Regions from separate parts of the Homo sapiens genome. Here regions 2 and 3 are each linked to region 1. Evidence: fine-mapped expression QTL. A gene starts in region 1. Each other region holds a variant in brackets. All regions are shown on one strand. Distances are between the middles of the regions.

Region 1 (8,180 bases):
TGCCCTTCCCATCTGGGCACTACATCACCTACTCTTTTTTCTTTCTTCCAAAGTTGTTGCCTTCTAACTACTCTTTAATTTACTTATGTTTATTGTTTATCTCGTGCTTCCGTAAGTGCAGTGTTTGTTTTTTTTCACTTTAGGGTCTGGCACAGAGCAGGTGCTTCATAAATGTTTGCTGATGATTGAGTGATGTATGATCCTTCTCTTGGGAAAGTCATTTCCTCCGCTGGTTTCCAGAGGATGAAGCACTTCTTGAGAGGCCTTCATCTTGCTGCTGTCTCCAGGGAAGGGGCAATTCTAAGGCAAAAACCCTCTCTCACTGGTCTCACTTGTCCCCCACCAGGGGGCAACAGCTTCATAGCCTCTCACTACTGGGCTGAGAAGTGGAAGCCTAAGGGAGCACCTTCCTCTCTGTTCCCTAGTGCTTCCAAATTCCCCAGTACCCAGTGACACCCAAGTGAGACAGTGGAGCTGGGCTTTTCTTCCAGCCTTCCTCTTCCTATTGCTTTTCTCCTCTTCTATTCCTCCTACCTTTTAATTCATCCAACCATTATCACGCAGGAGATACAGAAGCTGGGGCTACAAATGTGGAAGCAAAAGACACCCCCGTTTTTTCTTTCACATTTTAATTGAAAGACAGTGTAATGCCATTACAGTACACTAAGTATACAGCCTGATGATTTCTTAACACGCGTATACCTGTGTAACCACCACCCAGATCAAGATATAGAACATTTCCAGGCCCCAGAAGACTCCCTTGTACCTCTTTAGTCAATGCTGCCACCCCCAGAGGTAAGTACTTCTTTCATCATGGATTACTTGCCTGTTCTTGAACTTCATATAAATGGAATCATACAGTATTTATCACTATACCTGTGATAATGCAATATTGTTGTGTGGATATGTGGCTAATTATTATTTATTTATTTTTTTGAGACGGAGTTTTGCTCTTTTTGCCCATGCTGGAGTGCAATGGCGCAATCTCGGCTCAATGCAACCTCCACCTCCCGGGTTCAAGTGATTCTCCTGCCTCAGCCTCCCGAGTAGCTGGGATTACAGGCATGCGCCACCACCCCGGCTAATTTTGTATTTTAGTAGAGACGGGGGTTCTCCATGTTGGTCAGGCTGGTCTTGAACTCCCAACCTCAGGTGATCCACCTGCCTCAGCCTCCCAAAGTGCTGGGATTACAGGCATAAGCCACCGCGCCCAGCATGGCTAATTATTTTTATTGCTAAGTAGTAATCCATTAAATTGACGTATCAAAATTTCTTTATCCATTCTCTTGGTTACAGACATTTGGATTATCTCCTGGTTTGGACCGTCATAAATAATGCCACTGTGAGCATTCTTGTACATATCTTTTAGTGGACAGATGTTTGCCTTTCTTTTGAACAAACAGGAGTAGAATCTCTAGGTCATAGTACAGGTTTATGTATAATTTTATAAGAAATTGTCAAACTTTTTTCCAAAGTGACTGTACCACATTATACTCCCATCAGCAGGGTATGAGAATTCCAGTTGGCACCATGTCGTCCCATTTGATGCTGTATTTTTATTTTTGGTCATTCTAGAGGATGTGTAGTGGCAATGTCCTTTATTTTAGGATAAGAATCAGCAATAATAAGAAAAGAATCTATGTAGCAATTACCTTGCCCTTTGTTTATACAGAACAGTTCCAGCTCCTTTACTGGACTAAGATCGAAAACCCCAACTCTCATTGCATTTACCTTACCCCTTCCTATCTCGGGGGTTGTCTTAGTCCATTTGTGCTGCTGTAACAGAATAGCTGAGACTGCGTAATTTACAAAGAAATGTACTGCCTTACGGTCTGGAGGTTGGGAAGTCCAACATCAAGGTGCTCACATATTTGGCGATGATGAGTTCAAGATGGTGCCTTGGACACTGCATCCTCACCTGACAGAAGGTAAAGGGCAGGGTGGTGGAGGGTGGGGGTGGGGGGAGAGAAAGAAAGAGAGAGAGAGAAAGAGAATGCAAGCACATGCAGAATCTCTCCATGAACCTTTTACAATGGCATTGTTGACGAAGAGTCAAACTCTGTAAAATATTTGAAGAGATTTACTCTGAGCCAAATATGGTGACCAGTGGCCCCTGACGCAGCTCTCAGGAGATCCTGAGGACATGCCCAGGGTGGTTAGGGTTCAGCTTGCTTTTATACATCTTAGGGAGACATGAGACATCAATCAATACATATAAGATGTATACTGGTACAGAAAGTTTCCAGGTTATAGGCAGATTTAAAGATTTCTGATTGCCAATTGATTTAAAGAGTTATTGTCAATAGAAAGGAATGTCTGGGGTTGTGGAACTCAAGGTTTTACCAAGCAGATGAAACCTCCGGAGATAACAGACTGTAAATGTTTCTTATCAGACTTAAAGAGTCTGTTCTATCACTAATTCTAGAAGGGAGGAGGGTATAATGAGGCAAGTCCAGCTTCTGCTTCCCATCATGGCCCGAACTCATTTTTCAAATTAACTTTGGAATGCCCTTGGCTGAGAGGAGGGGTCTATTCATATGGTTGGGGGGTGGGGGGCTTAGAATTTTATTTTTTGGTTTACAACATTAATCCATTCATGACAGCAGAGCCTTATGACCTCCATAAATCCCATTAGACCCTGCCTCCCAACACTACTGCACTGGGGAGTAAGTTTCAACATGAATTTTGGAGAGGATAAAAACATTCAAATCATAGCAGGGGTGTTTTTCTTCATCTGGTTTCCTGACACCTTTAGGTCAAAGGTATCTCTCTCATTTGAGTTCCCTCTCAAAAGTGAACAGAGCTACCTCATCTCTCTTTAGAATATGAATTCTAGTCTTATTTTATATGAACATTGAGGTTTGTGTAGCAGGTATTTGGTGATTGCATATCTTAAAACTTGGCTTCTGTACTGTATGAGACTATCAGTTACGATACGAAGAAAATAAAAAGAGAGTAATACAATTGAGAATTAGGGAGATGAGTCACAGCTGGCTGTTACCAGGATGTGACATCTGTGCTGTGATCTGGATGAAAAAAAGAAAACCCTGGGGCTGTACAAGGAAGAAGATTCCAGGAAGAGGAAACAATACGTACAAAGGCCCTGAAGCAGGAATGGACTTACCCTGTTTGAGGAGTGGCTGGGGTCCAGAAATGGGCAGGAATGACAGGAGATGAGCTTGAGGGACTGAGGTGGGGTGTGGGATAGGACAGAGGCCAGTCCTGCTGAGTTTTCTAAGCTGTGAGCTGGAATTTGGATTTTACTTTAATTACTTGGGAAGCCAGTGCAGAATGTGAGGCAAGGACCTGATGTGAGATCCTAAAAGTGCCCTTGGCTGCCTGCTGGAGGATGAGCTGTAGGGGGCTGGAGTGGAAGTGGAGAGACACTCTCTTCTTACTTCTGTCACTCTTCCTTCTCCAGCCTCTCTTTCTCTGCTTGATCCTGAGATGGAAATTGTGGCTGTACCATCCATAGATTGCTTTCCTCTCAGTGCCCACTCTGACTGGGTTCACCTTCCTGCCAGCTGGGGCCTGTCCCAACACCTTGCCCCTTCCACCTTACCTCTCTCATGGTCCTCTCCCTCGAATTCAGCCTGTCCTACTTGAAATTTTCCTCTCCCTTGAATTCAGCCTGTCCTACTTGAACTTTTCCTCTCCCTCTGAAAGGGCTACTCCCCTTTGCCCACCCACAGTGAGTGCCAACACCACCCAACAACAAAAGCCCAACCCACAGGCCAGCTTTTTAAAATGATCCTCCATTACTAGTGGAAATATCTTCAAAATCTCTCTTGCCCACTGCTCACTCAAGTCTAGCTTCCTAAATGGCCATGCTTTCTTTGGTATCACCACCTACAGTCCCTCAGTCCCTTTTTTTGAGACAGAGTCTTGCCCTGCTGCCCAGGCTGGAGTGCAATGGCTTGATCTCGGCTTACTGTAGCCTCCGCTTCCCGGGTTCAAGCGATTCTCCTGCCTCAGCCTCCCAAGTAGCTGGGTACAGGTGCCCTCCACCAAGCCCGGCTAATTTTTGGTATTTTTAGTAGAGACGAGGTTTTATCATGTTGCCCAGACTGGTCTCGGAACTCCTGACCTCAGGCGATCCACCTGCCTTGGCCTCCCAAAGTGCTGGGATTACAGCTGTGAGCCACCGCGCCCGGCCCGTTTTTGTTTGTTTTAATGCCGGGTCTTGCTCTGTTGCCCAGGCTGAAGTGCAGTGGTGCGATCATAGCTCACTGCAACCTTGACCTCCCAGGCTCAAGCAATCCTTCCACCGCAACCTCCTAAGTAGCGGGGACTACAGGCGCGCGCCATCACACCGGGCTAATTTTTGTATTTTTTTTGTAGAGATGTGGTCTCGCTATGTTGCCCAGGGTGGTGTCGAACTCCTGAACTCAACTGATCCTCCCGCCACAGCTTCCCGAAGTGCTGGGACTACAGGAATGAGCCACCGCTCCCGAACCGCTCCATGCATATCGATAGAGGAAAACTCACAGGGTGCGTCGCTGGTAACCCATGCTCCCATAAAGCCTGGCCTCTGGAAAGAGACTTGGGAACGAGCCCTGACGTTCTCAGCCGTCGAGCTTCACAGAGAAGGGTAGCTCGAATTAGGTTCCTTATCTTAAAGAGAATAACAGCAGTCACTTTCTCACAATCTTGCGAACGCCAAATGGAAGGATCCCTCGAGAGCGCTGAGAACTCGCCGAGCTCCTCCCGGGAAACCCGGTACCACGAGGCGCCATTTTGCGGATGGGCAAACCGAGGCCCGCGGGGCCGCGACTTACCCAGGCCTTTTTGCAGTGGGAGGCGACGGTGGAGGAGGGTGGTCTGGGACCGGGACAACAAAGTCCATCCTGCCGCCGGCTTCGACGCAGGTGCCAGAAAGGTCCCAACCCCGCCCAGGCAGGGCGAGGCGGCGCGGCCCAGGAACCTGTCATGGCGGCGCCGCTGCCCGACGCCGGAAGTGCCCGCCTGGAACTACAGCTCCCAGCAGACCCCGCGGCGCGCTCCGGTCGACGCCGGGGAAGCAGCCGCCATTGTCCGCGGCTGAGGTGAGGCCTTTGCTCAGGCTGTGGGGCCGCCGTAGCTGCGGGGCTTGGGGGGTCAGGAGAGCCGGCTGGGAGAGGCGGCGTCAGGGTGGGTCCTGCGCCTGCCCTTTCCGCGCCGGCTTTGCGCCGTCGTTGCCGTCGGTTCTCCAGCCAGCAGCCTGCCTCCGGCCTCCCGCCTCCGGGCGTTCTTCGTTTTCTGGTCGGACGGGCCTGGGTGAACTCTGCTGCACGTCGGCTCCGCGGGCCTTTGTCCCCGAGGCCGCGCCGGGAGCTCCCAAGCGCACTCCTGGGCCGGACCTCGGCGCGGGACAAAAGCCAAACGCCCCAGGCGGGCAGACCCCGATCCTGCTGCGCCGCCTTCAAGGGGGACCGCCGGCCGCGAGCCAGGTGAGGCCGGGACGAGCTTTTGCAGCGTCGCGGCCGCGTCGGTCTTGAGGAGGAAATTTGGGTCGGGAGCTCTGGAAGCAGGTGATAAGGATGCTTCTGAGGCCATTGATGGGACGAATAACCCCGTTCGTTCCCCAGCCGTCGTTTCTCCCCCTGCCAGTTCACACAAAGCACTGTGAAGGACGTCAGACCTGGGTTGGAAACAGCTCCGGGTTCCCTTAAACATGCAGTGACGGCGGCGGTCACTGTCAAGTTGCAAATAATGGTGCAAAGTACGGTTTGCATTCTGCGTTTTCGCGCTGATTCCGGTGCTCCTGAGGCCCACTGTGTGTTCTAGTGCTTTATACACATACCCAGGAATCCATTCGAGAGGTTGCTGACTTGTACAAAGATCTGGAACCTGAGGAGTTAGGGGTCTGGGCGCCAGGCCCATCTCTAAGTCCTCCACACACACACAAGCTTAGGCTTAGTAAATCTTGGAGGTGAATTTTTTTTGGAGGTGGGATTAAATTTGCATAACATAATGTTCACTTTAAGCACTTAAAAGTGTGCAATTCACCGGTTTTATTGTATATTAATAAAGTTGTGCAATCATCCCCATTATCTAATTTTAGAACATTTCATCACCCCACAAAGAAACCCTTGTTCCCCTTAAGCAGTCACTCCCCATTTCATTTTTCCCCCAGCTCTAGGCAACCACTAATATATGAGGATTGCAAGTTGATTTTACAATAATTGTCAGATTAATCCAAAAGTTCCATCTGTGTTGTGACTGGCTGTCTCTTGGGAATAGCTGACAAATTTGTACCCTCTCATTCAGGATCATGCTCTTTTTTCCAGCTTATGCAAATTACCTTTCATTTCTCTCCAGGAATTGTGTTACTTTTTTGACATGTAAATTCTCTTTTCTTACGATGCTCCTTACAAGTTTTTTTGTTGCTTCGGTGGATGGATTCCCTTCTTTGTTCCCACTTGGTCTTCTGTGAGAAAGGACTAGTTTTGTCTTTTTTCACTTTTGTCACTAGGTTGGGATTTGCTGTGTTCCTGGGCAGGTGCCTGGTCAATCAGTCCTCGGGATGGCAGCCATCAACCCGTGGGCCTCCTGGGGTGAGTCCAAGTTGTGTTTCTCCTGGGCCTCCCCTATCATTAGCTGCTGCAGTCATGGGTCAGAGCTGGTGATGGGCTGAGGACTTTTGAGGATGGAAGGGGGTCTGTCTATCTTGGTACAAAATTAGAACTGATTGGTGGTAAAGGAGGAAAATTGTTGGCATAAAAGACACTAACTTTTATGTTTTATAGTCATCTCCTGAGAGGTGTCATTAGTTTTAAGGGATTTTTCTGGTGGTTTGTGGGGTTTCCTAAACAACAGTGATACATATAATAAAATATTGTCTCTACTGCTCTCATATATATTTTTACCTTTATTGTTTTTACTTATATAGCATTGGTTGGTAATTTTAAAACGGTGTTAATTAATAGTGACTCACCTGTGCATTGCCTGTGTGAATCCAGCTTATGTTGCATTTTTTTTACACACCCTTGGGCTCTGTTTATGGAATTTTGTAGTGCCCATTAGCGAGTCAGCCTCCTCTTGTATTTTGTCGCCTTGAATCACTAGGTTTGGTGTCACAGTCCTAACCTGATCCTTCTGTGCAGGTGCCCTTACGGACCAATCTTGGGGGATGACAGCTGTTGACCCATGGGCCTCCTGGGGTGAGTCAAGAGCCTGGTCAGCTGTGGGCTGCCATATTGTGGCCTCTGGCTGTAGTGCTCTGCCACAGCTGGGGAATAGAATGGGGACCAGGTGGGGCTTTAGGGCAGGTGGTCCAGATCTGTCTCTGTGCAGAGCTGGAACAAGGAGGAATCAGAAAACTAGTGGCCAGGCGTGGTGACTCACGCCTACAGCACTTTGGGAGGCCGAGGCGAGTGGATCACGAGGTCAGGAGATCGAGACCATCCTGGCTAACACGGTGAAACCCCGTCTCTACTAAAACAAAATACAAAAAATTAGCTGGGCGTGGTGGTGGGCGCCTGTAGTCCCAGCTGCTCGGGAGGCTGAGGCAGGAGAATGGCGTGAAGCCAGGAGGCGGAGCGTGCAGTGAGCCAAGATCGTGCCACTGCACTCCAGCCTGGGCGACAGAGCGAGACTCAGTCTCAAAAAAAAAAAGAAAACCAGTGAGCAGTAAGGTGATGGTGACATCTCAAGATGCATGAGAATTCATGTGTGGCCGTTTAGGGTTCAGGCCCAGGAAGGTTGTGACCAGACACTGCTTCTCAGAGATGGTACCCAATAGCACAGGGGGGGCCAATGAGAGATTCATGTGTTTAGGTACTTTCCTAACCTTCTCTGAGCCCTAATTCCTTCATCTATAGAATGAGGAAGTGGGTCTCTTTCCTCATTCAAGGGGGAGGGGCAGGGGCTGGTTCTCAGCCCCCCAGAAGAAAAGGTGAGCTCCTGGCAGCGAGAGCTGCCTCCATGACTTTTTTCTCGTTTCCTAGCTCTGTGTCCTCAGTATCCTGCCTGGCACGTGGAGGGAAGCCTGGAGGAGGGGAGGAGGGCCACTGGGCTCCCAGCAGCCCAGGTTCAGGTGAGATGGGGCTGTCCTGTTCCCAGAGGATGATGTCCAGGTTATCCCTGGTCATCCCAGTTGATGCGGCTCTCCAGTTTACAACAGTTGGAGTTTGGGTAGGGAAGGAAGCAACTGGAAGTTAATCCTTCCTGAGAGCAGGTAGGGAGAATTAGGCCGTTTT
Region 2 (8,180 bases), 65 kb after region 1:
ACTTGGTTGAACACCAAGGAACACACCATGGTCAGAAACTGTATACAGACGGGGCATGTAGGAAACAATTACAATTTACTGCATACCTTCATCAGCACCAGAAGCAGCATGTTGGACAGAAACACTTCAGAAGCAATGGGGGCAGAGACATGTTTTTGAGCAGCTGCACATTTGAAGTATCTGGGAAGCCCTTCACTTGCAAGGAGGTTGGGAAGGATTTCCTGGTGAGATCAAGATTTCTTCAGCAACAGGCTGCTCACACCAGAAAGAAGTCAAACAGAACCAAGAGTGCAGTGGCCTTTCACAGTGTAAAAAATCATTACAACTGGGGAGAATGTGTGAAAGCTTTCAGCTACAAACATGTACGTGTTCAGCACCAGGGAGACCTCATTAGGGAAAGATCTTACATGTGCAGTGAATGTGGGAAATCTTTTAGCACAAGCTGTAGCCTCAGTGATCATTTGAGAGTTCACACTTCAGAAAAGCCTTATACATGTGGAGAATGTGGGAAATCCTATAGGCAAAGCTCTAGCCTTATTACGCACCGAAGAATTCACACTGGAGTAAGACCTCATCAATGTGATGAATGTGGAAAATTATTTAACAGGAAGTATGACCTTCTTATACATCAGAGAGTTCATACTGGAGAAAGGCCTTACAAGTGCAGTGAATGTGGGAAATCCTTTAGCCATAGCTCTAGCCTCATTACACACCAGAGAATTCATACTGGAATGAGGCCTTATGAGTGCAGTGAATGTGGGAAATCTTTTATCCATAGTTCTAGCCTTATTACACACCAGAGAGTTCACACTGGTACAAGGCCTTATATGTGCAGTGAATGTGGGAAATCCTTTAGCCAGAGCTGTCACCTCATTAAACACCGGAGACTTCACATTGGAGAAGGGCCTTATGAGTGTAGTGAATGTGGGAAATTGTTTACTTATAGATCTCGTTTCTTCCAACACCAGAGAGTTCATACTGGAGTAAGATCTCATGAATGTCATGAATGTGGAAAATTATTTAGCAGGAAATTTGACCTCATTGTACATGAGAGAGTTCACACAGGAGAAAGGCCATATGAGTGCAGTGAATGTGGAAAATCCTTTACCTGTAAATCCTACCTCATCTCACACTGGAAAGTTCATACTGGAGCAAGGCCTTATGAATGTGGGGAGTGTGGGAAATCATTTACTCATAGCTCTACGCTCCTTCAACACCAGAGAGTTCACACTGGAGAAAGGCCTTATGAGTGCAATGAATGTGGGAAGTTTTTTAGCCAGAGCTCCAGCCTCATTAGACATAGGAGAAGTCACACCGGAGAAAGGCCTTATGAGTGCAGTGAGTGTTGGAAATCCTTTAGTAACCACTCTAGCCTCGTTAAACACCGAAGAGTTCATACCGGAGAAAGGCCTTATGAATGCAGTGAATGTGGAAAATCCTTTAGCCAGAGCTCTAACCTCACTAATCACCAGCGAATTCACAGTGGGGAAAGGCCTTATGAGTGTAGTGACTGTGGAAAATTTTTTACCTTCAACTCCAACCTCCTAAAACATCAGAACGTTCACAAGGGATAAAGGTTAGGTAACACACATAGGGCTGTTACGGACTGAGAAGTGTCCCTGCAAAATTCACAGACATAAATAAATAAATACGTATTTTCAATAACCATGTTTTATATTTAGTATATGTTCTCTGAATTTTGTTTTATACAAATAAGTTTATATGTGTACATACTACTTTGTCTCATATCCACACAGAAAACCAAATGGTTTCTTTTTTTAAAAAAATTCTTTGTGTTTAAATGGACAAATTATAATTGTACATGTTCCTGGAGTACATAGTGATGTTTTGATACCTATAACTTAGAGTGATCAGAGTAATTAGCATATCCATCACCTCAAACATTCGTCATTCCTTTATATTGGGAACAGTCAGTCTCAATTGCCATTCTCCTAACAACTTGAAATTATATATTATTAACTTTAGTTCTCCTGTAGTGGTATAGAACACTAGAACTTATTCCTCCTGTCTAGTTGTAATTTTGTAGCTTGTAACCAATCTTTGTCTATTCCTGCCTACCCACTACCCTTCCCAGCCTCTAGTATCCTCTGTTCTACTTTTTACTTCTAAGAGATCAACTTTTTTTTGTGGGGGTGGGGGACAGTCTTGCTTTGTCTCCCAGGCTTTTTTTTTTTTTTTTTTTTTTTTTTTTTTTGAGATGGAGTTTCACTCTTTTTGCCCAGGCTGGAGTGCAGTGGCATGATCTTGGCTCACCGCAGCCTCTGCCTCCTGGGTTCAAGCGATTCTCCTGCCTCAGCCTCCTGAGTAGCTGGGATTACAGGCATGCACCACCACCCCGGCTAATTTTGTATTTTTAGTAGAGACAGGGTTTCTCCATGTTGGTCAGGCTAGTCTTGAACTCCCGACCTCAGGTGATCCACCCGCCTCAGCCTCCCAAAGTGCTGGGATTACAGGCGTGAGCCACCGCACCCAGCTTTTTTTTTTTTTTTTTAAAGCTTCCACATATGAGTGGGAATGTGCATGTTTATGTTCCTGGCTTATTTCACTTAAATAATGTCCTCCATTTCCATCCATGTTGCCTCAGGTGATAGGATTTCATTCTGTTCTTTGAATAGTATTCCTTTGTGTGTATAAACCACATTTTCTTTATCCATTTATCTGTTGTTGGACATCTAGGTTGATTCCATATTTTGGCTATTGTGAATAGTGCTGCAGTAAACGGGGTGTAGATGTGTCTCCAATGTGATGATTTTCTTTCCTTTGGATAAATTCCCAGTAGGGGGATTGCTGGATGATATGGTAGTTGTGTTTGTAGTTTTTTGTTTTGTTTTGTTTTGTTTTTTGAGACAGAGTCTCACTCTGTTATCCAGGCTGGAGTGCAGTGGTGTGATCTTGGCTCACTGCAACCTCCGCCTCCCAGGTTCAAGCAATTCTCCTGCCTCAGCCTCCTGAGTAGCTGGGATTACAGGTGCGTGCCACCACCCCTGCTAATTTTTGTATTTTTAGAAGAGACGGGGTTTCACCATGTTGGTTAGGGTGTTCTCGAACTCCTGACCTCGTGATCCGCCTGCCTCAGCCTCCCAAAGTGCTGGGATTACAGGCGTGAGCCATCGCGCCTGGCATATTTGTAGTTTTTAGAGGGACCTCAATACTGTTCTCCATAATGGCTGTACTGGTTTGCATTTGCACCACCAGTGCATGAGTTCCCTTTTCTTGTATTTTGTTGGGTTTTTTTTTTTTTTTGAGATGGAGTCTTTCTCTGTCGCCCAGGCTGGAGTGCAGTGGCATGATCTTGGCTCACTGCAACCTCCGTCTCCCGGGTTCAAGCT[A/G]TTCTCCTGCCTCAGTCTCCTGAGTAGCTGGGATTATAGGCACGCACCACCACGCCTGGCTAATTTTTGCATTTTTAGTAGAGACAGGGTTTCACCACGTTGGTCAGGCAGTCTCGAACTCCTGACCTCGTGATCCACCCAGCTCGGCCTCCCAAAGTGCTGGGATTACAGATGTGAGCCACCGCACCTGGCCATTAGTTCCCTTTTCTCTGCATCCTTGCCAGCGTCTGTTTTTGTCTTTTTGATAATAATTATCCTAAACGGGGAGAGTGATACCTCATTGCGGTTTTGATTTGCATTTCCCAGATAGTGATGAGTGTGTTTTAATATATTTTTGACCGTTTGTATGTTGTCTTTTGAAAAATGCCTATTCAGATCGTTTGACATTTTTAAATTGGATTGTTTGAGGGTTTCTTTGCTGTTGAAATACTTCAGTTGCTTGTGTATTGTATTCTGGCTCTATTTTTTTTTGAGACGGAGTTGCTCTGTTGTCCACGCTGGAGTGCAGTGGCACGATTTCAGCTCACTGCAACCTCTGCCTCCCGGGTTCAAGCAATTCTCCTGCCTCAGCCTCCCGAGTAGCTGGGATTACAGATGTGCGCCACCACACCCACCTAATTTTTGTATTTTTAGTAGAGACGGGTTTTTGCCATGTTGGCTAGGCTGGTCTCAAACTCCTGACCTCAAGTGATCTGCCCACCTTAGGCTCCCAAAGTGCTGGGATTGCAGGCATGGCCACTGCATCTGGCCTCTTTCTTGATTCTTGATTACACTGTCACTGAGTGGGTTCTACATCAGAAAAAGATGAATAGGCCAGGTGTAGTGGCCGAATCCTATAATGCCAGCACTTAGGGAGGCCGAGGCAGGAGGATTGCTTGAACTCAGGAGTTTGATACCAGCCTGGGCAACATGGCAAAACCACATCTCTCAAAAATTAGCTGGTTGTGGTGGTGCATGCCTATAGTCCCAATTACTCCTGAATGCTGAGATGGGAGGATCACTTGAGCCTGAGAGGTTGAGACTGCAGTTGAGCCTTGATCATGCCACTGCGCTTCAGCCTTGGCAACAGAGTGAGACGCTGTCTCAAAAAGGGGAGAAAAAAATAGAATGTGGAGATAAGCAGATTTCAAATGTGAAGTGAAAAAGAAGCTTTTCATTGTTCAAACCATATTGCTAAGTGAGAAAAAGTACAGATGTGTATAGAATCTATGACTTTTTTCCTATAAGATGAAAAACTTGTAACATAATTGACACACAGAATAATGAAGAAAGGGAGACACAATTCTATGAGGATAATACTATACTGCAGATTTCACCTTCTGTTTTTACTTATTCATTAAATTATTTATTTGGAGACAGAGTCTTGCTCTGCTGCCCAGGCTGGCCTCAAACTCCTTTGCAGAAGTGATCCTCCCTCTAAGCCTCCCAAGTAGGTAGGTGAACAGGCACAATTTTTCTCCACCTTGGTATTGTTCAATGTTTTTAATAAAGAAAAAAAAATCTCAATGACAAAACCAACAAGGGGGACATTTTTAATCACATGCTGACCTTAATTCCATCTCTTCGTAGACATCACTGTTAAAACTTCTGGGCCGGGCGAGGTGGCTCACACCTGTAGTCCCAGCACTTTGGGAGGCCACCTCGGGTGGATCACCTGAGGTGAGGAGTTTGCGGCCAGCCTGGCCAAAATGGTGAAACCTTGTGTCTACTGAAAATACAAAAATTAGCTGAGTGTGGTGGCAGGCACCTGTAATCCCAGCTACTTGGGAGGCTGAGGCAGGAGAATGAATTGCTTGACCCAGGAGGAGGAGGTTGCAGTGAGCTGAAACTGTGCCATTGTACTCCAGCCTGGACAACAAGAGTGAAACTCCTTCTCAAAACAAACAAACAAACAAACAAACACCTGTAAAGTCAGCTGGGAGCAGTGACTTATGCCTGTAATGTCAGCATTGTGGGAGAAGGAGGCAGGCAGGTCAGAGGTCAAGAGTTTGAGACCAGTCTGGCCAACATGGTGAAACCTTGTCTCTACTAAAAATACAAAAATTAGCTGGGCGTGGTGGCAGGCATCTGTTATCCCAGCTACTTGGGAGACTGAGGCAGGAGAATCGCTTGAACCCGGGAGGTGGAGGTTGCAGTGAGCCAAGATGGCGCCACTGCACTCCAGTCTGGGACAGAACGAGACTTTGTCTCAAAAAAAAAAAAAAAAAAAAAGAAAGAAAAACTTCTGTGAAGTGTAAATTTTTTTCACCATCCACTCATGTTTCAATTGACCTATTTCTGTCATCGCAGTTATTAGATAGTCGTTGGTAATAAGTTTCTGTAACTGGCATTTCACCTGTTTTTCTGGTATCATATTAGTTCCTCATGCAGAACACTCCCCGCTGTCACAAGAGAAACAAATGATAATCACTTCCCAGGAAAGATAACAAGCTCGATAATTTAACATACGCCTAGTGTCTCCAGGTGGAGATTATCACCACCATTACCAATACCAAGCTGAGATTTCTCTTTCATTGTTCTTTACCTGAGACTGACTTCAAGTTCCTAAAATGAGTTGAAAATATAAGTTAGAATACCAAGTAAGGGATATTACATGAATAAATGTTTTGCTGAATGAATTGGACACAATAATTGACTATATAAGCAGGAGAGTTGTTTTTCCATGGGAACGACTGATTGACCTTTGTACTCTTTCTTTAGCCTCTCCTCTATCTTCCTTGGCATGGTCCTATCTGGATTAGTTCTCTTTTGTCCCTGGCAGACTGAAAAACCAACTCTAATGCCTCAGAGTGAGGCAGGAGAATAGGGAATTAGGGTAACCAAGAATGAAGGCATAAGCAAAAGAACAGCAGGTGCAGCTAGTTCTAGGCAAGATGAGGCAGCACACAGGCCACGTCCTCACTCCTGTGGTAACAAGACAGAAGTCTCCACTTCAGCCTCTGATTGGTTGTGCACCAGTCCTTCATAGGATTGGAGGCCTTTAAAGAACTCTTGGGGTATTATAAAATTCTAGCTTATTCATGGCAAAAACCGCAATTACTTTTGCACCAACCTAATAAAACCCTAAAAAACATTGTAATCGGGGTTCTTGAGCCGCTTGGTCGCCTGCTCCCACACCTACATTCCACTTCTGTGGAGTGTACTTTCCCCTCAATAAATCTGCGCTTTCATTGGTCCGTTCTTTCGTTGCTTTTTTTGTGTGTTTTGTTCACTTCTTTGTTCAATGCGCCAACAACTGGACAACTCACAGCCAAGACATTCTATCCGGTAACAAGAGTGCATTCATGTGAATTATAACAGAGTAATGTTTATCAGCCTCTGCTTCCAGTGCAAGCATTCTGTGTCTAAACGATTGTATAAAGTGATACACGAATTTGGATTTGTAGCCTTTGGGGGCCTTCACAGTATTTTTAGCGCCTGGGAGCTTGAATTTACAGAAATGTGAATTAATATTTTTGCAAACACTTAGGTGGTCAGTTACAAACAGGGATTCCCCAGGAATCTCAATATGGCCTCTAAGGAGGGGCGAGACCATCCTCTGCCCTAAAAGGGTACGCGCTTTAATGAACCCCCTGAGGTAGGGCTGGGACTTCCCTGCAGAAGCGCCTTTGGGAAGCGGCAGCTTTACTACCTTGGAACCTGGGGAACTACATTACCCAGAAAGCTCTACATTGAATGACAGCGCAACAGAACCAGTAAGGGCTCAGAATAAAGGCGTTTCTGTGTGCGCACGTAACGTAGTGGCGGGATTCTCAGCGTTCTCTGGTAGCGACCATTTTGGTTAATGTTGGGTGTGTTTCTGCGGTTTGTGAGGTGAGAGGCGCTGGAGCTATGGGTCCGAACCGCGGTGTCTGAACCCAGAAGGTGAAGAGTCCTTCTTGCTGCACAGAGGCAGATCTTAGGCCCCGTAACGGCGCCCGCCGCTCCCGGCAGTGCTTTCCCCGCGTACTCGGGATGGCGGCGGCCGCGCTGAGGCTCCCGGCTCAGGTAATTGTGCCTTCCCTGCCCTCAGGTCACCTCATCCTAACCCGAATCCTGAAGCAGCGAGAGAGCGGCGACTGTTCACAGGTCTGCAGCCCGGACCCGGCGTCGGGACACTGAGGCGTTCGCGGGAGAGGTCCTTGTTTCTGACACCTGTGGGATGCGGTGGGGAGAGCGACAGGCACAGGGACCGGCGCGGGCTATGGCCTGGAGGACAGACCCGGGAGGATGGAACCTGGGGTCCACAGGCGCCTGTAGGGAACAACGTGTGAGGCGAAGCTTCTCCTGGAAGAGCAGGCTGGGGGCTGTGTATTCGCTGTGAAGACGCTAGAAGCCATGGAGAGTTTCGAAGAAAGGAGGGATGCGATCCAAGTCCAGGCTTTTAAGGTTTCCCAAAGGCCAAAGGAAGAACATAGTAGAGGAGATGAGGACCTTAGGGTTCTGGGAGGTTGACTCCTTTGTTGATAGATCACATAGGTGGTAGAGATGACATTTTGCACTGAGACACGCAGGTCAACCAGTCTGAGGTCACCTGGCTCCAGCGATAAGAAAAGGTTCAAGGAGACCTGAGCTTATCAGATCCCCTTTGTAACGTCTGCTTTCCCCTCAGACACTCCTGGCTACAAAAGCACGTAAAGAACCCACTGAGGGGGTCGGGCAAGGTGGCTCCCACCTGTAATCCCAGCACTTTGGGAGGCCGAGGCGGGCGGATCACCTGAGGTCGGGAGTTCGAGACCAGCCTGACCAACATGGAGAAACCCCGTCTCTAACAAAAATACAAAATTAGCCAGGCGTGGTGATGCCGCATGACTGTAATCCCAGCTACTCAGAGGCTAAGGCAGGAGAATT
Region 3 (8,180 bases), 1.0 Mb after region 1:
GGGCAGTGGGAACTGGAGTGATCCAGGGTTGTTATTTTGCCCGAGGGAGTGTGTGAGAGAGAGAGTGAGAGCAGAGAGGGGAATAAGAGAGAGAGAGAGAGAAGAGAAGAGAAAGAGAGAGAGGAGAGAGGAGGGAAGAGAGAGAGAAAGAAGAGGGGAGAGGAAAGAGAGAGAGAGAGGCAAGAGAACAGAAAGAGAGAGAGAGGAGAGAGAGGAGGAAAAGAGAGAGAGAAAGAAGAAAGGAGGGCCAGGCGCAGTGGCTCACACCTGTAATCCCAGCACTTTGGGAGGGCGAGGGTGCACTTTGGGTGGATTACCTGAGGTCAGGAGTTCGAGAGCAGCCTGGCCAATATGGTGAAACCCCATCTCTACTAAAAATACAAAGAAGTTAGCTAGGCATGGTGGTGGGCGCCTGTAATCCCAGCTACTCGGGAGGCCGAGGCAGGAGAATTGCTTGAACCTGGGAGGTGAAGGTTGCAGTGAGCTGAGATCGAGAAGAAGAAGAAGAAGAAGAAGAAGAAGAAGAAGAAGAAGAAGAAGAAGAAGAAGAAGAAGAAGAAGAAGAAGAAGAAGAAGAAGAAGAGGAGGAGGAGGAGGAGGAGGAGGAGGAGGAGGAGGAGGAGGAGGAGGAGGAGGAAGAAGAAGAAGAAGAAGAGGAGAGAGGAAAGAGAGAGGGAAGAGAGAGAGCGAGAGAGCAAGAGAGAGATGCAAGGAGCAGACAGCCTTTCTAAAGGACTCACAGGAGAAATAGACCCGGAACTCCAGACTGCCAAAGAGTATGAGGAGACCCAAAGGGGCTACGGACACAGAGAGTCCTGAGGTCAGTAGAGATGTGGGTGAGGCCAGACGATTGGTCCAGGCCTTCAATGTGGAGCTCACATCTTACTGCAGAGTCTGGAAAATTCCATCCTCTGCGGATCTCTCGACACCTTCCCCACGCACTTGCCTCCCCCATTCCAGCTGGGGTTTCCATGGCAACAACCTGAGCTCCTGCACCATTCGCTAGAAGGTTGGGAGCACCGAGTGAGCAGGGAACAGGGCAGAGGGACGGACATCAAAAGTGTCCGTATCGGCTGTTCATGTGCGTATTTTGCACACATCGAAATGCGTCAGCAGCAGCAGCGTCTCCGCAAAACGTAGAAAAATGGCTTCAGGGGCCACTGTGGATGTGGACAGAAATCCCAAATATCTTCTAAGCAGCAGCATTTCACGTCCTTATTCAGTCAGACATATTCATCGAGCCCCCCCATCCCTCCAGACACTGCTTTAGACACGGAGAGTGAAATAATGTGAAAAAAGGAGCCGGGGACTCTTAGGACAGACAGCTGTTCATGCCCTCATTTACGCATCCATCCATCCTGTCTTTCAGCTGGTATTTACTGGGCGCATACTTAGTGGTATACCCTGGCCAAGCGTGGTGGGTGCAGCAGAGAACGCAACAGATGTATTCACATGCTGGGACATGAGTATTCTAGCAGGGGTGATACATGGGAACATAGGTAAGATTTCAGGTGGTGGCGAGTGTTATCAGGAACAATAAGTCAGATTCAAAGAGCAGGGGTGGGGTGTTTTAGATTGGGAGTCAAGGATGCCTTCTTGGAGGTGGTGATATTTGAATCTCAATGGAGGGAGGGAACAATTATGGGAATATCAAGAAGAAAAACAGTCCAGACAGAAGAATGTATGTCTTGAAAAGCCATGAGGCTGATGACTGCCCAGCCTGAGGACCATCGAGGAAGCCAGTGTGGCTACGGTGGAGAGAGCAAGGGAAAAAGTGGATAGAGATTTGTCGGAAAGTGAAGTAGGGGCCTGATCATTCAGAACAAGATGGCTGATTGCCAAACTATGGCCTGCCTGCTTTTGTACAATACAGTTGTGCTGGAACATAGACACATCCATCATTTGTGTTTTGTCTAGGACCACTTTTGTGCTATAAAGGCAGAGTTGAGTTGCTGTAACCTAGACTGCGGGGAATCCCTTTTGCCACATCAGGTGACACTCACAGATTCTGGAAACTAAGACGTGGGGGGTCATCATTCAGCTCACCACAGATGGATGAGTAGATAGGTTAATGGATGGAAGGATGGTGGGTGGAAGTATGGATAGTAGAGTAGATGGATTAATAGTAAGGTGGATGATTGTATGGAAGAGTGAATGGATAGATGTGTATACAGATTGATGGGTGGTGGGTGGATGGCTGTATGGAATGATGGGTGGGTGGATAGGTATAGGGTGGATGATTGGATGGAAGGGTGAATGGATAGATGTGTATACAGATTGATGGGTAGGTAGATGGATGTATGGAATGATGGGTGGATGGATAGGTGTAGGGTGGATGATTGGATGGAAGGGTGAATGGATGGGGGTATGTGGATGGATGGGTGGTGGGTGGATGGATAGGTGTAGGGTGGATGATTGGATGGAAGGGTGAATGGATGGGGGTATGTGGATGGATGGGTGGTGGGTGGATGGATGGGGATATGTGGATGGATGGGTGGTGGGTGGATGGGTGTATGAAGTGATGGGTGGGGGGACAGGTGTAGGGTGCATGATTGGATGGAAGCATGGATGGATGGGGGTATGTGGATGGATGGGTGGTGGGTGGATGGGTGTATGAAGTGATGGGTGGGTGGTGATAATTGGAAGAATGACAGAATTAATGCATTAGGTGGGTTGTTGCATGGGTGGCTGAATGGATGGACAGTTGGATAGTTGTGTGCATTAGATGGAAGTGTGGATACATGGATGGGTGGATGGATGGGTGGGTAGGTGGAGGGATGGTAGGGATTGAAGAGATACTTGTCTCTCTTTGTTATAGGTCAGTTTTATTTCAAACAAACTCCCTGGATTCTGGAGCTGCTCCTCTGTGTTGGCTGCCAACACCTCCCACTGGTGGGAAGTCCTATTTTGGGCATTTAAATTTCTTGGAATAGGGGTTGGTGAATGAGGAGGGTGAGCAACAGATGGGCTAATTGTGTACACACTTCAGTGACACAGAATGGTTGAGTAATGCTTTCCTTGTTATGCTCCATCTTCCCGGTGAGGTTTCTCAGGCTCTGTCCTGGGCACTGTTTTCTCCACACCCTCCCTGGGAGACCTCACGGTGACACGCTGAGAGCGATGTCTCAGCCACTGTGTTGC[A/G]GCCTCCGCCACCATCCTCCCTCACCTGACTCTAAAGTGAGGTGGAGCAATTGGGAAGATACTATCAGAACTTTTATTTCACTATGTGTTTCATTTTCAACCTTTTGTTTTTTAAGTGTGTGTGTGTGTGTGTGTGCGTGTGTGTGTGTATTTTTGAGACAGGGCCTCACTCTGTTGCCCAGGCTGGAGTGCAGTGGCAAAATCATAGCTCATTGCAGCCCCCAACTCCTAGGCTCAAGCGAGCCTCCCGCCTCAGCCTCCTGAGTAGCTGGGACTACAGGCATGTGCCACCCCACTCGGCTGAGCCCAGCTAATTTTTATTTTTGTAGAAATGGGATCTCACTTTGTAGTCTAGGCTGGTATCAAACTCCTGCTTCAAGCGATCCTCCTTCCCTGGCCTCCTAAAGTGCAGGGATTGGAGGTGTGAGACACTGTGCCCAGTATTTAAAGGTATGTTTGTGGTTTTGTAGTGTGTATAAGGTCTCCAGTCAGAAATGCCTTTCCTATCTGTTCCTGCTATTTCCCCCTCCTTTGTCAGGAGCCATTTTCTTTTTCTTTCAGTGTCTGCTGCACAACCTTAGTGACCTCCACCACCATGATTCCTGGACGATTGCAACATCCTCCTCCGTGGTCTCACTCTTGCCCCTCCCCTATAGTCCCTTTTACACACCTTAATTTCACTCCAGAGTCTGGAAATTTCCAGCATCTGAGAGTCTCTCTGCCCACTCCTCAGCAACTTACCTTCCTCATCCAATCGCATTTCCATGGTGACCACCAGAGCCTGCTTCTGAGGTCTGTACCAAGTGAGAGTGTCTGTCGGGGGACAGGTCAGAGTGATGGACATCAGAGTAGCTTAGCTGAGAAGCGAGGCAGGGATCACAGGAATCATCCACCCACCACCCATCAATCTGTATACCCATCTATCCATTCACTCTTCCATCCAATCATCCACCTTACTATTCATCCATCTACTCTACTATCCATCCTTTCACCTACCATCCTTCCATCCATTAACCTCTCTACTCATCCATCTGTGGTGGGCTGAATGATGGTCCCCCAGTGATATCCACATCTTAGTATCTAGAACCAGTGGGTGTCACCTGATGTGGCAAAAGGGATTCCCTACAGTCTAGGCTACAGCACCTCAACTCTGCCTTCATAGCGCAGGAAGGGTTCCCACCACGGTCCTCCTGTCAGTGGTTCACCATGACTTCTGTTCCCGCTTCACCCCTGGATACACTCGTTCATTCATTCAAATGATATTTATTTGCAGATGGGTTCAGACCCCTTTGCCTCTCAATTGTTGTTTGAGTCACCACCTGTGACACCCTCATCTTTCATCATCCTAAAGAGAAGTTCTGTCTTTCTCCTGCGGAGCCCTTAATGGATCCCAGTGATCTTAGAAAAAACAGCTCCTTCCTTATCACAGTTTGCGAGCAGCAGGCGCCCACAGTGTGCCCAGAGGAGGAGCCCAGGGTGGTAGCTGTGTTGGAAGGAAGGACCACACAACTTATCTTAATGTCCCAGCCCCAAGGAACTAGCACATATATCTTCAGGTTACGGAAAATAAAAAGCAATATAAATTTCCGGAGTAATAAAAGTGAAATAGTTTACAGTGCTTTATGCCATTGCATGGGATTCTTCCTGCATTGTTCTAAAGAATTTCAGTTTGAGGAACATTTGTAGGGCACAGAGGAAGTGCCCCAGCTGACAGGCACTTAGGGCGAGACACTCACTAAGTTCCAAAGGTGGGTTCAGCTGGGTGCAGCGGCTTACACCTGTAATCCCAGCACTTTGGGAAGCTGAGGTGGGTGGATCACCTGAGGTCAGGAGTTCGAGAACAGCCTGGCCAACATGGTGAAACCCTGCCTCTACTAAAATACAAAAAAAAAAAAAAAAAAAAAATAGCTGGGCATGGTGGCAGGTGCCTGTAATCCCAGCTACTTGGTAGGCTGAGGCAGGAAAATCTCTTGAACCTGAGAGGCGGAGGTTGCAGTGAGCCGAGATGGTGCCACTGCACTCCAGCCAAGGTGACAGAGCAAGACTCTCTCAAACAAAACAAAACATATATATTTAAAAATGTATATTTTAAGTGAAATATATAAATAAAAATATAAAAATATATAATTACTTTATATAGGTATTTATTTATATATTATTTCTACATACATTATATATAGACACTTCTTTTAAAAATTACTCTGATCCTCCAAATATATAGATAAATAGATAGATAGAGAGATGTCAGTAACCCCCAAACATAGATGCTAGTAAAATGTGGTTAAATTATATATACATATATATTTGTAGAGTCAGAGTAATTTTTTTTAAGAAACGCTTATTGGTGAGGGAAGTTCCTGAGTCATCACCCTCCAATAGCTGTCAGTGCTATCAAACAGTATCAAGCCATCAAGTCTCCTCACCCCCATCTTCAGGGTCCATCTGTAACGCAGCCTCTGCTGAGCACCTAGCAGCCTCCCCTCCTATCTCTCTCCCCACCACTCATTATGTGCCGCTGTGTTGTCTGGGCACCTCAGGCTTCTTCCTGACTTTGCACCTGCCCACAACTTCTTCCCCAGATCTTCCCATTACTGGGTACTTCCGACCCTTTGGGAGTGAGTGCTACCGTGCATTCGCCTCCTCCAGGAAGTCTTCCTGACCTCCTTTTGAAAGTAATATTTGCGCAGTATGGCCATTTTCACGTTATTGATTCTTCCTATTGACAAAGGGCTAATATCCAGAATCTACAAAGAACTCAAACAAATTTACAAGAAAAAAAAACCACCCCATCAAAAAGTGGGTGAAGGATATGAACAGACACTTCTCAAAAGAAGACATTTATGCAGCCAAAAGACACATGAAAAAATGCTCATCATCACTGGCCATCAGAGAAATGCAAATCAAAACCACAATGAGACACCATCTCACACCAGTTAGAATGGCGATCATTAAAAAGTCAGGAAACAACAGGTGCTGGAGAGGATGTGGAGAAATAGGAACACTTTTACACTGTTGGTGGGACTGTAAACTAGTTCAACCATTGTGGAAGTCAGTGTGGCAATTCCTCAGGGATCCAGAACTAGAAATACCATTTGACCCAGCCATCCCATTACTGGGTATATACCCAAAGGATTATAAATCATGCTGCTATAAAGACACATGCAAATGTATGTTTATTGTGGCACTATTCACAATAGCAAAGACTTGGAACCAACCCAAATGTCCAACAATGATAGACTGGATTAAGAAAATGTGGCACATATACACCATGGAATACTATGCAGCTATAAAAAATGATGAATTTATGTCCTTTGTAGGGACGTGGATGAAGCTGGAAACCATCATTCTCAGCAAACTATTGCAAGGACAAAAAACCAAACAACGCATGTTCTCACTCATAGGTGGGAATTGAACAATGAGAACACTTGGACACAGGAAGGGGAACATCACACCCTGGGGCCTGTTGTGGGGGGAGGGGGGGAGGGATAGCATTAGGAGATATACCTAATGTAAATGACGAGTTAATGGGTGCAGCACACCAACATGGCACATGTATATATATGTAACAAACCTGCACGTTGTGCACATGTACCCTAGAACTTAAAGTATAATAATAAAAAAAAGAAAGTAACATTTGCCCGTTAGTATCACCTCACTCTGTTTCTTTCTTGCACTTAGAATCTTCTGAAATTATCTTCTTCCTGGGTTGAGTTTTATGTTTATTTTCTTTTCATTCTCACAAAATGGAAGATGCAGAAAGACAGGCTCTTTGCAGTTCTGCTCACCGTTGTACCCCGATGCGTGGAGCACAGACCAGCCTACCGGAGGGCTTCCTAAATAAGCACTTACACCCGAAAGAGTAAAGAATTGGATTCCTGCAGCCAGTGGGGAGCTGGTGAATGCTGGACAGCCAACTCTGGAGGCCGGGGTGGCGTGCCCGGTGGTGTTTGCCAGCTTCCATGGTGCAAATGCCTCCCCAGCATGGGCAGCTGCAGGAGCCGGCCTGCTCGCTGGGCATGGAGGTGGGAGGAGGTCAGCAGCCCCCACATCTACTGCAGACACAATGGATGTCAATCACCCCCAAACACAGACGCTAGTAAAATGTATTTAAATAACTAGGAAAGCGTATGTTTAGGGTGTTTCCTACCTTTGTTCTTTACGTCTTTTTTTTTTTTTTTTTTTTTTTTGAGACGGAGTTTCGCTCTTGTTGCCCAGGCTGGAGTGCAATGGTGCAATCTCGGCTCACCGCAACCTCCGCCTCCCAGGTTCAAGCGATCTTCCTACCTCAGCCTCCCGAGTAGCTGGGATTACAAACATGCGCCACCACGCCCAGCTAATTTTTGTATTTTTTAGTAGAGACGGGGGTTTCTCCATTTTGGTCAGGCTGGTCTCGAACTCCCGACCTCAGGTGATCCGCCCACCTCAGCCTCCCAAAGTGCTGGGATTACAGGCGTGAGCCACCGTGCCCGGCTTACGTCATTTATTTAATTTTGAAAGTGCATGGAGTGTCCTGTTTACTAAACGATGTGCTTAAACATCTCACAAACTTCCTGCGAGTTGACGCGTTGGTTCCTGTCCTCCAGTAGAAGCTGGCTCCAGCACACCCCTGCTGACAGCACTCTACAGTTTCCATCTGAATTCTGCTGGTGAGCCCTGCCCGGGAAGGATTCAGACTCAGTCCCCCACGACACTGAATCTCAGGCCCTAGAGTAAGATGTTCGGTCAGAAATGACCCCAGTCCCTACACAGCAGAGGGTGCAGTGACCTGGGACACGTTCCCCCTGCTCTGCGGCAGTGACGGCTACCCGGGGTGGGAGAGACGGGGGTGGGCGAGGGGTGGCCTTGGCCCCAGGGGTAGCCTTGCTCCTTCATGTGTATGGCCTGAATCCTTCCTGCTGCAGCTCGCGGAAGAGTCAGGGATGGAATGCAGGGGCTGCAAGAGGAGGAGGGGAAGGAAGGACCGTCTTGAGGTTTGGGCAGCTCTGCTGAAAACAGGAGTGAAGATTTGGGTAAGCTTGATGTGCAAACACCTCTCTGAC

Evidence for each region.
Region 2: its variant is fine-mapped to the expression of ZNF606-AS1 in esophagus mucosa (GTEx, PIP above 0.99). The same link has a PIP of 0.9 or more in aorta and tibial nerve.
Region 3: its variant is fine-mapped to the expression of ZNF606-AS1 in pancreas (GTEx, PIP 0.99). The same link has a PIP of 0.9 or more in unexposed skin.

Annotation. Positions count from the first base shown.
Region 1 is chr19:57,999,645-58,007,824 of GRCh38, reverse strand. ZNF606-AS1 (ZNF606 antisense RNA 1) reads right to left here and starts at 4,931. Exons shown (of 4, transcript NR_036508.1): 1 at 4,779-4,931; 2 at 4,489-4,614; 3 at 3,125-3,442; 4 at 619-1,918. ZNF606 (zinc finger protein 606) reads left to right here and starts at 5,005. Exons shown (of 7, transcript NM_001348022.3): 1 at 5,005-5,429; 2 at 6,455-6,536; 3 at 7,086-7,142; 4 at 7,929-8,017. The coding sequence starts at 6,506. RefSeq lists an enhancer at 4,654-5,073.
Region 2 is chr19:57,934,318-57,942,497 of GRCh38, reverse strand. ZNF418 (zinc finger protein 418) reads left to right here and starts at 7,096. Exons shown (of 6, transcript NM_133460.3): 1 at 7,096-7,337. It overlaps ZNF256 (zinc finger protein 256), which reads left to right. Exons shown (of 3, transcript NM_005773.3): 3 at 1-1,665. The coding sequence ends at 1,574. RefSeq lists enhancers at 7,129-7,218, 6,811-7,693. The variant A/G (reference allele first, on the strand shown) is at 3,351.
Region 3 is chr19:57,003,540-57,011,719 of GRCh38, reverse strand. No RefSeq gene overlaps it. Among named protein-coding and RNA genes, the nearest start is that of USP29, 110 kb to the left of the region's middle. The variant A/G (reference allele first, on the strand shown) is at 3,142.